2 linked regions of the Homo sapiens genome follow. The protein of the gene in region 1 interacts with the protein of each later gene in a pairwise test. Each region holds a gene or a part of one and is shown on either strand. Other genes may lie near its edges.

Region 1 (3,500 bases):
TCCAACCTGGAAACCTGGACTTGGGAAGCAGATCCCTCCTTCCTGGCCCCTCAGACCTCAGCACAGATCCAAGGACACAGCAAGCAGAAAACCAGTCCAAAGCATGTCCAGCCATTTCACACACACACATGTGCCTTCCCCAGTTCTAGGTCTAGGTGGCAACAGTTAATGTGCTGAGAAACTAATTCACCAAAGGCCAATTTACCAAAAGATTGATTAGCTAAATGACCGATTGGCCAATTTTACATAATTCACAAATTTATCAAACTTTGCTTTACGATGTTCTTTAAAAAATATATGCTATGGCCAGGTGTGGTGGTTCGTGCCTGTAATCCCAGCACTTTGGGAGGCCGGGGCAGGTTGATCACTTGAAGCCAGGAGTTCGAGACCAGCCTGGCTTTCCCTCATCCATGGAAGGGATCTCTCCCCAAAGGCAACCAAATAGGCTTCTGCACCTCTTGAGGAATCCATCCTGCTCTGCCCCTGTAGATTTGGGGCAGGTCCCCTGGACTCTATGTTGTCAGACCAAACACCTCCTTCCAACTTGGTGAAATGCCATTCAGTTCTTCTTGCATAATATAAAAAGAATCAGAAATATAACTTTATTTTAAAAGGTAATTTCTTTATAGGATCTGATGTCTGCTTAAGGTATTTGTCATGTTTCTTCAATCGGCTTGGATGGTTCTTGAGGGCAGGGACTGCAGCCTTAAATCCGAATCTTTTCTCCCCATGTGTGCAATGCTGGTGCCTACATATACTAGGTGCTCATTAAGTTTCACCGTGGTGGACTCCCTGATGGTGTTACCAGCGGAGTGAGGCACCATTCATTAAGAACACCTACACAGGGTGCGGTTTGATCCCCTAGATCTAAGCACACTCCTTCCTGATATGGTTTTATTGCACAGCTTTTGCCAATCAGTCTCATTCGCTAGTCAGACTTCATCTGTGCTGAAAGGCGAAACCAAAGCAGGAGCAGTTACAGGACCCATTAGCAGAGGTTACTTTTCTCTAATCACTGGTGAAATTCTCCAGGAAGCATTTTTAGAACTTGGAAGTGAAAATACAGATTGGAGTTGCCAAATTACCCTTGCAGGTCCTGTCTACTGGGCCCTCATCTGCTCCATGTGCACGCACACACCCCACCTTGGGTACACATACCCACATGTGTCCTCGCATGCATGCCCTACTCCATATGCACACACTCCCCTGCATGCACCCCGATACGCACATTGCAGAGTCTATTGGTCCAGGCACTGACCTGTCTGGAGATGATGAGTTTCCCCAGCGGCATGGGAGCTCCGTTTTCAGTTGCTATCCTCTTTAAGGTGGCGATTGCCTTTTCCTGGTTCCCTGACAGCACATCATACCTTGCACTTTCAGGCAGCCACTGGGATGGGGGAGACAGGAAACCCAGGCGTGGCTGGTTAGGGTGGAACAGAGCACTCGCTTCTAGCCACACAGTGTTGCATGTGGGGTCTTTAAGAGTGGGGGCTCTGGAGCCAGAGAGCTGACTTCAAATCCTGGCCCCACCATTTATTATGTTGGTTGTGTGACCCTGTACAATTACTTGACTTCTCTGTGCTTTCATTTCCTTCTCCATAAAATGTGAATGATAAGAGATCCTACCTCTTAGGGCTCTTAAGAGGATTAAACAGGATAATACAGGCAAGGTGCCTAGTGCAGTGCCTGGTATGGGTTAATGCAGTTATTATTATTGTCACGGTTGCTATTACTATTATTTGGGGCTGTTTTCAGAGTTCCAGGTGAGGGCTGAATTAAATTAAGATCACTGTCAGAAATCTCACCCCCATTGTTCAAGGAATTACACCTCACCTGTATTCAGCATCATCTTGCAAACTCAGTTCAAGAGAAAGAAAGAAATCAGAAAGATTTTTAGGCCAATGGAAGTCCCAACCCCAAATGACTACATACATACATTTCTGTAAAAATGGAGCAACAGCTGTTTGAAACAGCAGGTATACTGGAGAAAAGACTAGGAGTTAGAAGATCTGATTTAGAGTTCTTTTGTCTACTTGCTGTAGGCCCTTTAACAAGTCAATTAGCCCCTCTGGGCTTCAGTTTTCTCATCAATAAAAAGAGGATATAGCAGAGAGTGCAAATGCCCACCAACATTCTGTTTCCTTTTTCATAGCGCAAAGTTGTCCTTAGATGTGGCTGCCCAGACAGGGACTACATTTCCCAGCTCCCTTTGCATCTAGGTGGGACCAAGTGACTTGTGTTCACCAATGGCATATGAGCAGACTATTCCTGGCCAAGGTATTTAAGAAGTGACTGTGCAGTCTCCACTTGCCTTTTGCAAGTCTGTTGTCTGTATGTAGAAGACTTCAAAGCCCTAGAGGATGGCAGAGCCACCAGCTGGACAAAAACTGGGCCCAGAATTCCACTTGCCAACCAGAAAAGTCATTCTGAACTATTGTGTTAGTGAGAGAGAAGCTCCTATCGTGCTGTTACTGAACTTGTGGGCTTTATTTGTTTCAGCAGCTGGTATCACCCTGACTAATATAGGGGTTCATTATAGTCCTGTGATTATTGGGAGGAATAAATATGATAATGCATGGAGCACAGAGCCTGCCACACAGTTAAGCTTAATAATTATTAATACTTATTATCATTACCAGGAATTTTTGTGGTATTTACCGTACATGAGAACTACCCATCTCTAGGCTTATTTTAGTGCCTACTGGCTGTAAAGTGTTTCAAGCATGTGCCCATGAAATGATGAGTATGTGGCAAGATCTCAGTAGAGGGTGTGGTTTATGCACAGATGAGATGAAGAGATCATTTAAACTCCTGGAGCCAGCCATGCCTGAAGTCTGACTTAATCCTCTGAAATGTATTTATCCCTCTCTTTTACTCAAGCCAGTTTGAATTGGGTTTCTGTCATTTGAAACTTAAGAGTCTCAACTAGTGCAATACAATCACTTTAAGTGTAGATTTTGCAATGATGGGGCCAATGTATCCTCCCATCCCCAGTTATCTCCCCAGAAAACATCCCAGAAGTGTCTGTCTGGAGGAAATCTAACACTCCATACTGGGGCTACCCCAGGCCATAGCTCCCTTGTCTCATTTCCTGATTTAAAAAAAATAATCTTGAAAGGTGGCTTTGGTATCCTTCCCTATCCCCTCCCCACCAAAATAGAGTGGACAGTAAGATGTCAGACAGCAAAAGGTGAAATCTCTTAAAGGATACCTACGAAACACAGCACGGCAAAGAGGAGGAGCGGGACAGCTGAGAGGATGAGCAGCCAACGCCAGCCCAGGCTGGGCATCACGAACACAGCCAGGACGACCTCGAACACTGTCCCGATGGCCCAGAATACCTGGCACAGGAGAATCAGGGTCAGTGGTGGGGGTAGCATGGTCCATACAGAGAGGAATTATGGGGGCATTGTGGACAAGGGTATCTCTGTGGGTAAGGGGTCATCGGAGTCAGTAAGGTTAGAATAGCCACACTTTCCCTGTGGTCTATATGGTTGGGC
Region 2 (3,186 bases), on another chromosome or scaffold:
AAAACAGAACCTACAATAAAAATAGACTGTAAGAGCTTTAGTACCGAGTGAAAAATGTAAAATTATTTGAGTCATGAACTTGTCCCAAGATAAATGTGGAATCAATGCTAAAACCTGTATAGTACTTTAAAGTAAATGTAAGATAAGACAAAGATGATTGTTATTACCATTATCAATACTGATTTAGAAATTCTAACTAATGAAGTACAGTAAGGAATATAAATCAGAATCATAATTATTGGAAAGAAGATAAAACTTAGCCTTGTTTGAGGATAACATGATTTGTATAATGAAAACCCAAACGAGTCAACTGAAAAGCTAATATAAACTTTATTATATAACCAGCAGTAATGATTACAAAGAAAACATAATGGTTTTAGAAAAAAATTCAGAATAGGCAAAACATACATAGAGAAAAGCACAAAACACTTCAGAGTAATCTTAAGAAGAATTATGGGAGCAAATGAAGAACAGCACATAAAATTACTGTAAAGTATAGAAAACTCACTAAATGCTTGTTTCCTTTTTAAAATTTGACAGACTGGACTCACAGGTGAAAAAAGTCAAACTGGTCTCACAGGTGAAAAAAACTCTTTTGAAACTGAGAGTGATTAGGGACACTACTTATTTAGTCTTGTGTGTACTAAATTAAAAACATAAAACATAATGTTTTTAAAAGTACTAGAGCAAAAATTGATACAGATCATTGAAACAAAATATATACTCCAGAAACAGACTATAATTTCTGGAAGGATTTCACATATCCTCCGGAGATCCTCAGATTTGTAAACAGAAATTTATACGCAGCAGTGTGCATTTAGTTACGTTTAAAATCATTTGCCTTACCCTAACTTATTCATGAGCAGAAGGTAAATCCAAATCCCCAGTGATACTCAATCTGAAACAGACCATGTGAAGTTTGTATTCATCAGCTCAATTGCTGATGAATGCTTGTAATTTAGAATGTTTGCCCACTTCCTTTAGAGAATCTTATTTGAAACCATTATTTGTTCCTCTTTTGTATTTTTATATATGCCATCTAAATAGCCATGGTACATCTAGTCTGATTATACTTCTTGTTGGCCCTCATGTTTAGCTACTTTGATGGATGACTGCTTCTCCTTCTGTGTATTGTGGAGCCCAGCAAAGTGAATTTGTTTAATACCAGGTAGCCTGTGTTTTGAACCCTATCATGCCAGATATGACCTTAAGACATGGTAAAATCCTTCTAGACATTTTCATGACTTCAGTGGCAGGTAAAAAGCAGGAATTTCATTTAATTTATATTATTTTTAGAAAAGTTAGAAACAACTGGAATTAACAATAGGGAATGGTTAAAAATATATTTGTACATCTGTGCAGTCACGTTATACAGCCACAAAAAGGGATTACTCATAGCTCAAACCTCAGCATCATGCATTATATTTAGTTAATATGTGCACATATGCCCCGACTCCAAAATAAAAGTTGAAAAAGAGAAATATTAATATAAAATAAAGAATTTTAGATGATATAATCCTTACCAGGAAGTATACTATGAATAACATTTTTTTAATTTCATTTGGTTTGTATATATTTTATTTTTATATTTTCCTTTATTTTTCAAATTTCTTAGAAGCATGAGAATCAGAAAAACATAATTTAAAAATGTGAAGATCAAGATATTTAAGGATTGGAATATATATTAACAATACAAATAAATTATGTGTCAACAATTATTTAGCGGTAACATTTAATGTGTGTACTTTTAGTTGATTTTACTAAAAGACTTATACACATATGTGACCAGGACATGTATACGTATATGACAAAATCATTCTGATTTGCATCCTCAAATTCAGCCCTATAGTTTCCACCACTGAACAGCTGACTAAGGTACCACAGTAAACTCATGGCAGTTCTTCTAAGGGCAGGAAAAGTTATATAAAATGTAGGCCTTTAAATACTGGATTTGCAAAGTTCCATTATGTGTGGTAAGAATGGAAAAGCGTATACCTACTATGTCCCAAATAGGAAATTACCTATAAGCATCATAATTTAACTCACCATACATACTTTGACTCAAGTAACTGATTTAAAAAAAAATCCATGTGGTTGGTGCATGTGGTTCGTTATGTTGTGTTCATAAATATGATCATCAACCGATTTGCAAAACAGTAAAATATAATAATTCTATGAACTCAATTCCAAAAATAATTTACACCTGGATGAATCTTTTTGGAAAATTTTACCAAACAGCATCATCTTCAGTGCTTTTCTAAACCAAGGATAGAAAAATGCATAAACCATTGGATTAAATGTAGAGTTCAAGTAGCCAAACCAAATCAATACATCATTCAAAGTAGGTGGAATAATGTAGTGAAGAAAAGGGTCCATGACTGTACAGATAAAGAAAGGGCACCAGCATATTAGGAAAACTCCCATCACAATCCCCAATGTCTTCACAGCTTTCCTTTCTTTGCTTTGTGAAATTCCATTTTTCATTTCCAATCCAATTTGGAGCTTCTGATTGGCATCACTAATTAATCTTGCCTGTTCTTTAGCGATAAGATATATTCTGTAATAGACACATAACATAATAGATCCAGGTATATAAAAAGAAGTCATAAAGGTCAGTACCCCAGATATTTTGCTAAAGAAGACAGAGCAACCTCCTCTGCAGTGAACATGTTTGTAATATATCTCTTCAGCGCCTTTGAAGTTTAGCTCCAGAAAGATCATTCCAAATGCAAAAACAGCAGGGACACTCCAACTAATGAAGATCATCACACAAATAACCAAGATATTCATCTTGGCTTTATATCTCAGTGGATCACACACAGCATAGTAGCGGTCAATGGAGATGAAAGACAAATGGAAAATGGAGGCTGAGCTCAGCATAATGTCGGTGCTTGTGTGAATTTTACAGAAGACTTCTCCAAAATACCAACAGTGCTCAGCAGATCTCACCATACTGTAAGGCATGACCAGACACCCCAGAAGAAAGTCCACAGTGGCCATGGAATGAATGAGCCAATTTGTTGGGGTATGAAGTTGTTTGAAGTGTGATATAGAAACAATAACTATCAGATTGCCAACGAGTGTGGTCAGAATTATGAGCACCATTAAACTGTACAGGGAAGCACGGACATCATTTGACCAGTTGTTTTTCACACAGGAAATATTAATTATATTGTGGCAAAAGGG

The links. Proteins that work in one complex are often made in the same cells at the same time.
Region 2: the proteins of SVOP (region 1) and TAAR1 interact in a two-hybrid assay, tested with the Homo sapiens proteins (one large-scale study listed by BioGRID and IntAct).

Annotation. Positions count from the first base shown.
Region 1 is NC_000012.12:108,937,569-108,941,068, forward strand, and holds part of SVOP (synaptic vesicle 2-related protein), read right to left. Parts: intron 3,342-3,500; coding exon 3,216-3,341; intron 1,388-3,215; coding exon 1,259-1,387; intron 1-1,258.
Region 2 is NC_000006.12:132,642,812-132,645,997, forward strand, and holds the end of TAAR1 (trace amine-associated receptor 1), read right to left. Parts: coding exon 2,173-3,186; 3' UTR 501-2,172; downstream 1-500. UniProt on the Homo sapiens protein: Intracellular G-protein coupled receptor for trace amines, which recognizes endogenous amine-containing metabolites such as beta-phenylethylamine (beta-PEA), 3-iodothyronamine (T1AM), isoamylamine (IAA), cadaverine (CAD), cyclohexylamine (CHA), p-tyramine (p-TYR), trimethylamine (TMA), octopamine and tryptamine.